Regions from separate parts of the Homo sapiens genome. Here region 2 is linked to region 1. Evidence: fine-mapped expression QTL. Tissue or cell type: thyroid. Region 1 holds a variant in brackets; the other region holds the start of a gene. All regions are shown on one strand. Distances are from middle to middle.

What was found. PIP is the estimated chance that this variant, and not a neighbour inherited with it, causes the effect. A credible set is the group of variants that fine-mapping cannot tell apart.
Region 2: it holds the start of SLC20A2, and the variant in region 1 is the best candidate, but not a certain one, in a credible set for the expression of SLC20A2 in thyroid (GTEx, PIP 0.87).

The regions. Positions count from the first base shown.
Region 1 is chr8:42,651,938-42,656,339 of GRCh38, forward strand. No RefSeq gene overlaps it. Among named protein-coding and RNA genes, the nearest start is that of CHRNB3, 43 kb to the right of the region's middle. The variant G/A (reference allele first, on the strand shown) is at 2,517.
Region 2 is chr8:42,499,369-42,503,770 of GRCh38, forward strand. SLC20A2 (solute carrier family 20 member 2) reads right to left here and starts at 1,863. Exons shown (of 11, transcript NM_001257180.2): 1 at 1,663-1,863. RefSeq lists an enhancer at 2,770-3,969.

The DNA.
Region 1 (4,402 bases):
AAATTACATCTTCAGGAACACATTTAATCACACCAAACTGTGTCATGCAGCCATAAATATCGCCCAGACAGTTCAGGCTTTTAAAGGACACAGGATCCGTTTTACAGTAAACTGCTTCAACATTTTTGTTTGTTTGTTTGTTTTTGAGATGGACTTTCTCTCTTGTTGCCCAGGCTGGAGTGCAGTGGTGCCATCTTGGCTCACTGCACCTCTGCCTCCCGGGTTCAAGCAATTCTCCTGCCTCAGCTTCCTGAGTAGCTGGGATTACAGGTGCATGCCACCACGCCCAGCTGATTTTTTGTATTTTTAGTAAAGATGGGGCTTCACCAAGTTGGCCAGGCCAGTCTTGAACTCCTGACCTCAGGTGATCCACCTGCCTCGGCCTCCCAAAGTTCTGGGATTACAGGTGTGAGCCACCACACCCAGCCAAGTAAACTGCTTCAATATGCTTACTGAGAGTGCACATTTTCAACTAAAGCCGCCACAAGCCCTATTGTTGGCAAAAGAAGGCTTCTGGTCCAGTTTTAGTCTCTGTGCTGTAAAAAGAATGATAATGCAATTAGGAGCTGATCAACAAAACCAGGAGCTTTATGACTGTGCATGTGATGTGTGTGATGTGTGTGTGTGTGCATGTGTGCGTGTGTCTCCAGTAGGCATACATTTGCTTTGCAACACCTGGATGCAGGAAATGTCATGTTTTATTTTCCTAAATCAAATAACACCCCTCTGTCAGCCGGCACTGCCCAAAGCAGGGAATGCTCAGTGCGTTTCCATTGCCTCGGCTGTGCAGGAGTCCTAGGGTGTTATTAGTCCAGAGGACATGAGGAAGTGACTCTGCCTTGAGTCTACCCTGGCCACAACTAGACGTGCACTGCTCAACCTCCAGCTGTCCCTTCCAAAGTTCTGCTCTGATCCAGGCTGTGGCATGGAGACTGGGAACCAGACCCCCTACTATGCCACCTCCTTAGGCAACCTTGAAATTGTGTCCCCCATGGTGTGCTGTGTGCAATGGGCTTGGTCACTCTCACCTCCAGTGGTTCACAACACCGCCCCTTCTTTATCTCTCCTGGGGGTGAGGAGTCTCACTTCTTCACTTTCCACCCTCTCCATCTCCCTCCCCCAACCAAGCCACTTTTATCTCCTCTGATCCTTGTCCAGGGCAATCCACCTTAATCGCCCAGTGGGCCTGAAACTGCAGCCCTGGCAAGGTGGGGCAAGGGGCCAGGAGCGGAGTGGAAAGGGTGGGAGCCGGGAGAGGACAGCACAGCTCATTCCTGCTCTCCATGGGGACAGGGAAAGATGTTTTTAATCTTCTTGGGTAAATCCATGGCAGGAAAAGAAAGCTGAGCTAAAAATTAGTTTCTTTCAGTAATAGTTCAACTATTACTGAAGTATGAGAGTTTGTATTTACATTTATGTAAGATCCATGAGTTTAAAAATGGTGTTTATCTCATGCACATCTATATCCCCTTCACTCAGCTTGGAACAGTATAGGTGATTGATTCAATATTGGACAAATGAATTGTGGATGAATGAATGAATGAGTGGATGAATACAGGTGGTAAGACACACACCTCATGGAATCAGTCACCCCCCATTGGGAAGTGGAATTCAGTGGGGGTGATCACTTACTGCTATTTATGTGTCTCTGCTGTTTGCATTGCATAGAACTATTTTTAGTAAATACAATGTTTATATAACTTGCATTGAGAACTTTTTGAGGCCAGGCGTGGTGGCTTATGCCTGTAATCCCAACACTTTGGGAGGCTTGAGGCAGGCAGATGGCTTGAGTCTAGGAGTTTGAGACCAGCTTGGGCAACACGGCAAAAACTCATCTCTATAAAAAATACAAAAAATTAGCTGGGTGTGGTGGTGTGCACCTGTAGTCCCATATAAAATTTTATTATAATATTGCTATGAGAGAAGCTGTCTGGCAGTCATAATTCACATGTGTTAGGGTTATATTATTGGATAAGAATTTTTTTAAAAAAAAAGAAATGGGATCTCACTGTGATTGCCCATGCTGGAGTGTAGTGGGTATTCACAGGCAGATCATAACACACTACAACCTTGAATTCCTGTCCTCAAGCTATCAAACTCCTGGCCTCTGCTTCCCGTGTAGCCGGGACTACAGGCGCACACTACTGTGTCCAGGAATAAAATGTTAAGATAATTAGTATGAGGCCAGATACAGAAAGGTCAGCATGTTTGGTTTCCAGAACCTCCGTGTGTGACTGACAGCTAGTAGGTGACTGCTTTCTCAGGACACATCTTTCTAAATCTAGTGAGAAAATTTCTTAAGCATTTTATCAGGAATAAATGATATTCCCAGAAGGAGATTTGAAGTATATCAAGCAAAAAGACTCCGTCCCAGACCGCTTGAGAACAACTTTCCTTACACATTTGTGAAGTTGTTCTCATCCTGCCAGAGTTCACAAAGAGAAGAGAAGAATAGGCAAACTAAAATTCACACAAATCAAACCATACACAGCATAGGGGCCTCCTGGATGCCATGG[G/A]TGCTTAAAAAGGCATTTTCTTGAAAGCACTTTATTTCCTCTTAACTCATTGGACTGTTGTTAAGGGCAGATCTTTGGTTTCTCTGCAAGAAACATAAGCACTAGTTAGGAGTCATGCTGGAGAACCAGGAAGAGAGACTCAGCTGGTCACCAAGACACAGTGGAGCAGCGACTCTCACCCCAGAGATTGGTAGAATGACCCAAGAAACTTTATGTGGGACAGCAGGACTGTAACTCAGCCAATGAGACTGGCATCTCTGGACGTGGATCCAAGCATCCCATTTTTTTAAAGTTCTACATCAGTGGTCCTCAGACCTCAGCAAGCATCGGAATTGCCTGGAGGGCTTTGCAAGCACGGATGGCTGGGCACACTCCCAGAGTTTCTGATTCAGCAGGTTCAGGGCGCAGTCAAGAATCTGCATTTCTAATGAGTTCCCAGGTGATGCTGCCCTAGAAGATTCTAACGTGAGCACAAAGTCAAGAACTGGCTCAAGGGGTGGCTCTTCAGCTTCCACACTGGAATCACCTGGGTGCTTGTCAAAACCATAGGCCCTGACTCATAACTAAAATTTAAGATGTGACATTATTTGTTTACACCCTGAGTAGTTTTCACTGAAACTGAACTGAACTTGTCAAAGAACAAAGAAGAAGAAAAGAAAAGCTTATCCCATTGTTGCTCATGCTTGAACATTGCACACAGGGTGTTTACGGAAATGGGAAGGGCCGGTTTGCAGGGAAGGCGTGTTCCTGGGGGCAGAATTAGCAGGAGGTCTGGGGCAGCCAGATGGGTTTATGGATGGCTCAAGGGTAACTAAGTGTCTGTGCATTGCTGAGCGAGGTGAGAGTCTTGGCTGATGTTCCCCACTGTTTGAGAGCATAACACGCAGGGCCAGGACTAGCAGAGGAAAGTAAGATGCCCACTATGGGCTCAAATTGACCTGGGTGCCCCCAGATTCAGGAATTTATAAAATAAATATATTTTCAATTTTTAAAAAGAGACTGGGTCACCCAAGCTGAAGTGCAGTGGTGCAATCTTGGTTCACTGCAGCCTCGACCTTTTGGGCTCAAGGGATCCTTCTGCCTCAGCCTCCTGATCAGTTGGGACTACAGGTGTGTGACACCCTCCTGCAAAAATTTTAATTTTGAAATAATTATAGACTTACAGGAAATTGCAACATTGGTATACCCAACTTCCCCCAATGATGACATCTTATAGTACAAAATCAAAATCAGGAAATTGACATCAGGACATTACTGTTAACTAGACTGTAGATGGCCAGTTTTTAAACCTGTATTCATTTGTAATGTGTGATGTGTGTGTGTGTATGCATATAGTGAATGCAACTGAAGACAAATATTTTAATGCAGTATTTTTTTTTTTTTGAGACAGAATCTCGCTCTGTCACCCAAGCTGGAGTACAGTGGCATGATCTTGGCTCACTGCAACCTCCACCTCCCAGGTTCAAGCAATTATCCTGCTTCAGCCTCCCAAGTAGCTGAGATTACAGGCACCTGCCACCACGCCCAGCTAATTTTTGTATTTTTAGTAGAGATGGGGTTTCACCATGTTGGCCAGGCTGCTCTCAAACTCCTGACCTTGGGCGATCTGCCTGCCTCCCAAAGTGCTAGGATTGCAGGTGTGAGCCACTGCGCCCAGCCAATGCAGTAATTTTAAAAATAAAAATTAATGCAAAAAAATGATAAAAAATACAATTTTAAATAATGACAGGATCCGTAAAAGCTCTGTGCTAACCACATTGGATCCTGAGGCAAAAGGAAATATCAGAAACATTTTGTTCATCATAGATTTGTTTACATAAATGTAGATTTTAAACAATATTGCATTAAAGGATGATTTATCCTGACTGCTGAGCTGTTGGAGCCCC
Region 2 (4,402 bases), 150 kb before region 1:
TAACACTTATATAATGAAAACCTTCTCCGCTCTCACTCACCGCTGCCACTCTCTCACAGCACGTAAATCATTAAAACGAACACTCCTCAAGTGTTTATGCGCATTTTAGCAACTCATCATAAAGCACATGCTTCCTAGTAGTAGAAAAACCTACAGAAACGTCTGTGAAATTAAACAATGGATAAATTCGAATCAGCTTTTCTCTTTTGCAGGACTAAGAACTACAATAGGTCAAGTGAATACTGGTGTGAAAACTAATACCCAACTACAGTGTACCTTTAAAAATGCTCCACTGAGATTCTGATGGTGCCTTATTAACAATTAGAAGTAAGAAGTAATAGCAATAAGTCAGAATTTTTTGGATAAAAATATATATTATGAAGGATTACCGGAGCAAAACCCCTTTTACTGCTGAAGATGACATTAGAGGCTTCTGTTATCATTATAATTCATCTGGGCAGCAAATTTCTCTTCAGCTCAATAAAAACTAAGTATGAAGTAAGTTTCTTTCTAAAAATAGCCCAAGAACTCAGTACTACTTTCCTTTCTTACACTCTTTTCCTACTAAATGGAACACTGAAGTATTTCCTTTCATTGTTGACACTTTATGTCATTTGCATTTAAAATCAGACAATACATAATAACAAAGAAGTCTTTAACTAAATCTTTTCAAAATGGGAAAATGGCTTTCACAATACTAACTGTGGACCTGCCTCCTTCCTTGCTCTAGAGATGACAGGCATAGATAGCTGGTGAGCACCTATCCTATCGCCTAGGAGAACTGTTTTATTAATAACAATATTCCTAAAGCTGATACATTTACTTGCTAATTGATAAAGAAATTCCTGCCTGGTTCTCTGCTGTAAGCAAACTGTTTGGCTTGAGGTCAGTCCACATTGAAAACACACTTCTAAATAAGCAAGATGATTCAAATTTAATTTAAAATATTCAATATCAAAATCTTTTGTTTTCTTCAGTACAAATTTAAGTTGGTAATAATGTGTTAGATGAACTGCAGTTAAGGTTACAGAATCCCATGGCCTTTGGTTACTTTTGATAACTAACTCAGTCTAAAAGAGGATGCTTTAAATTATTCTCTAAAACCTTCTTCCTAAATTAATTTTTTAAAGTGCTTCTCTTTAGGCATATATGGGTTTATTTTTTAAGCACAAAATCCCCCTTAAAAGGATAAAAAACTGTCCATCTATACATTCAAGAAAATTACATTTGACACTCCATTATTTCTACAAAATAAACTTGTAGCACAGAGTATAACAGGAATTAACTTTCAACATTTTTTTCTCAAGAATTAGGTTACCATAGTAGAAAACAAAGCTCAATGACACAATACAATGTTTCTGTATTTACAGAAACCATATCCATTAATCAAATATTTTAACATAAAATAATAATCTACAGATTGCTTTTGCAAAAATAAGTAAGAATCGAAAACTTTTTCTTGGGCAAATTGAATAAGGCAGATTTATTGCAGTAGGAGACATTTAAAGAAAAACCTTTTGCCACCTCTCTTAGCTTTCTCTAACGTACCAACCTGAAAGCTTCCAGTTTTCCCAAGAGATAAACATTACTATGACGGTAACATTAGGAAGATTTAAGGAGAAAAGAACAAAGAGAAGTCTTAAAATTCCACCCAGTACTTACAAGTAGTTTCCAAGAAAACTGAGCCACAATTCTTCAGAAGACTGCTCTCCTGATCACAAACACAATCTGAAGTCTAAAATAGATATCCTACCACATTAGGCCGAGAAGTCACATTTCAGCTTGCTAACTTCTACTTTTACAACTCATAGAACTAACCCCGGCTAAAATTAACTGCAGCCAAGCAGCAGGCAGGAACACGCTGATTTGCATCATGTGTGCCGGGATTTATTCACTAGGACAACATCGGTGTCCTCTTAATGGGAAATGCGGCCAAGGGGCGTGCCCTGGTGAACAATACATAGCATCATGATTATGCTAATTACTGAATTCAGTCCAATAATACTAACTTCTTTTAAGTTGTTTTTGCAAGTACTGACAAAGAGAAGGAGTAAGCTTTTTCCCAACAGGCATTCACTTGATTTTTAAGCACATTCAAATCAGACCAAACTTTGGCAACAAGGTGGCAGTGCTGTGTGCTCTTCACAAGCAAAAGCAAAGCAAAAGGACATTCTGTCCGATTATTTAAACAGCGTGATTAGATGCAGCACTACGTGAAATTAAATAGACACAGAATATACATATCAGTAAGTCTATCCACCAGAATCCTGAAATAAAAGCTTTTTCTTTCTCTATAATGAACTGATTGCAGGGACTTGCTTTCTGGCTCTGCCTCCTCCTGCACCTCCCAAGGAGTCGCTATGAAGACACAGATTCAGTAATAAATCACAACTGAGAATAAACATCTCAAATATTTGCAAAGGCATTGTCCTTGGCAAGAAGCATTTTAAGGTGGATTTAACTCCTTGGCTAGAAAAATTGTCCTCTGTAGGTGACTGACCATCTACAAAGCATGTTGGAACTCAAGTTAACAGGTAAAGACCCCAAACATACAGCTGACACTTAAAAGAAAATCAGAACATGAAAAACTTTCTCTCGAAAATATAAGTACAACTTATAACAAAGACACAAAACCGCTTAGTATCTACTCAAGACGGTTTGGGACTAGTTTGCTTTAGACTAAGTTCTGATGACATATTTTGCTCTTATTGAACACTCTATGAAAGATATCAAAGCACTTTACAAACATCAATCAAATCTCCAAGCATCTTTGGGAGATGTCATTTTCCTCTTTTTTTTTTTTTCCCACAGACAGGTAAAAGACAGGGTAATTCCATTTCAACGACTTCAACCAACCCTGGATCACCCCATCTCCTCCTGAGACCTTTATAACATCTTCCGTATTAACCACTTACCTATAATCCTATAGACCTTTTCAGAGCCATTTGTTTTCCTCATTTTAAAATGTCATATGTTAGTTTGGACTTCAGGAGATTCACTCTACTTAACACCCAGATGCCAGGCCTGAACCCCAGGGGCTTAAAAAGCCCTCCTTGACTCTCTCTTGCAGACAGGTATCCTGCAACATGGATCCCTAAAACATGGCGATGCCCTCAGGAGGCACTGTCCATCTGCAGCCTGCTGCCCAAAGCACAAACCGGTTGATCTTCATTGGTGTGAGTTGGACATCACCAGCACAATCTCCCTCCTGTTGTTTACAAACACTGCTGGCTGCTGATCTGAGATTGCATCCCCTCGGCCTAACCTGAGGCTCTGTGCCAGCACCTGCCCCACCTCTGCAAGAGGGTGGCTGGTATGCATTCCCCTTCACTCCAACCCAGAGTCATGGGAGGCAGGCATTTCCTGCTCTGTGCTGAAAGGAGAGAAGTCAGCACTCATCAAAGATGGCTAGCTGCTAATGAACAGAATTATTCTCAATAATCCACTGCAAACTCACTCCAGAAGTCTTAATGCCAAAAAGGACCTTGTAAGGCTATTTTTGACACGATATTCTCATCCTATTATGTCATAGTTCAGGACAAAAGTCTCTAAGCCAAAATATTATTTCTGCCCTAAACCAGAAAGTAAGAAAAAGCAAATACACCAAGTGCATTTCTGCATCAGAGTTTGTATTGGAAAGGAGCAATCTGATGTATGATGGATCCTACATCCATTCATTGGAAGGCAGGGGCCCCTGAGCAATGCTCCGGTTCCTCACATGTCAGATATGCCTAGTATGACTCTGCTGTTTCAACAGCAGCCACACCTGTTCCACAGTGGAAGAACCAAAGCATTCCAAATAAAAGAGTCTCCTCCAATTTACATTAGTCATTCTGCTGCTTCCTTTTCATTAGTGAAACTACTTGAGTCAACAGTGCTTTTGTTCTAGGTATACTTATGACAGTAGATAAAAATCTGTATCAGAGTACCTTGAAAAGCAGAGTAAATTCTTCCCATTTGTTCTCATTAATTTTTGGTGGTAGAGGAGGGACAGGGAAGGCGGTGACCTATGGGATCTTTAGTTCAACGAATCCATGAAATTAAAGAAAATTACTATGTTTATGAATGTCCACTAATGAATGAACCCAGATACCAACCTTCTATGAGCAGTTACATGTATAATTTAAAATTTTCTAGTAGCTGCTTTTAGAAAAGTAACAATAAAGAGGTAAAATTAATTTAATAATATATTTTAACTCAATATATCCAAGATATGATCATTTTAATGTGTAATAATCATAAAAACTATTAATGAGATATCTTCATTCTTTTGTTTGTACTGCCCCAAGCCTGTGCAATCCAGTGCGTATTTTACAATTAGTACATTCCAATCTGGACAATCCACATTTCCAGTGCTCAGTACCCACATGTGCCTGGTGACTATCATAGTGGAAAGCCAGAG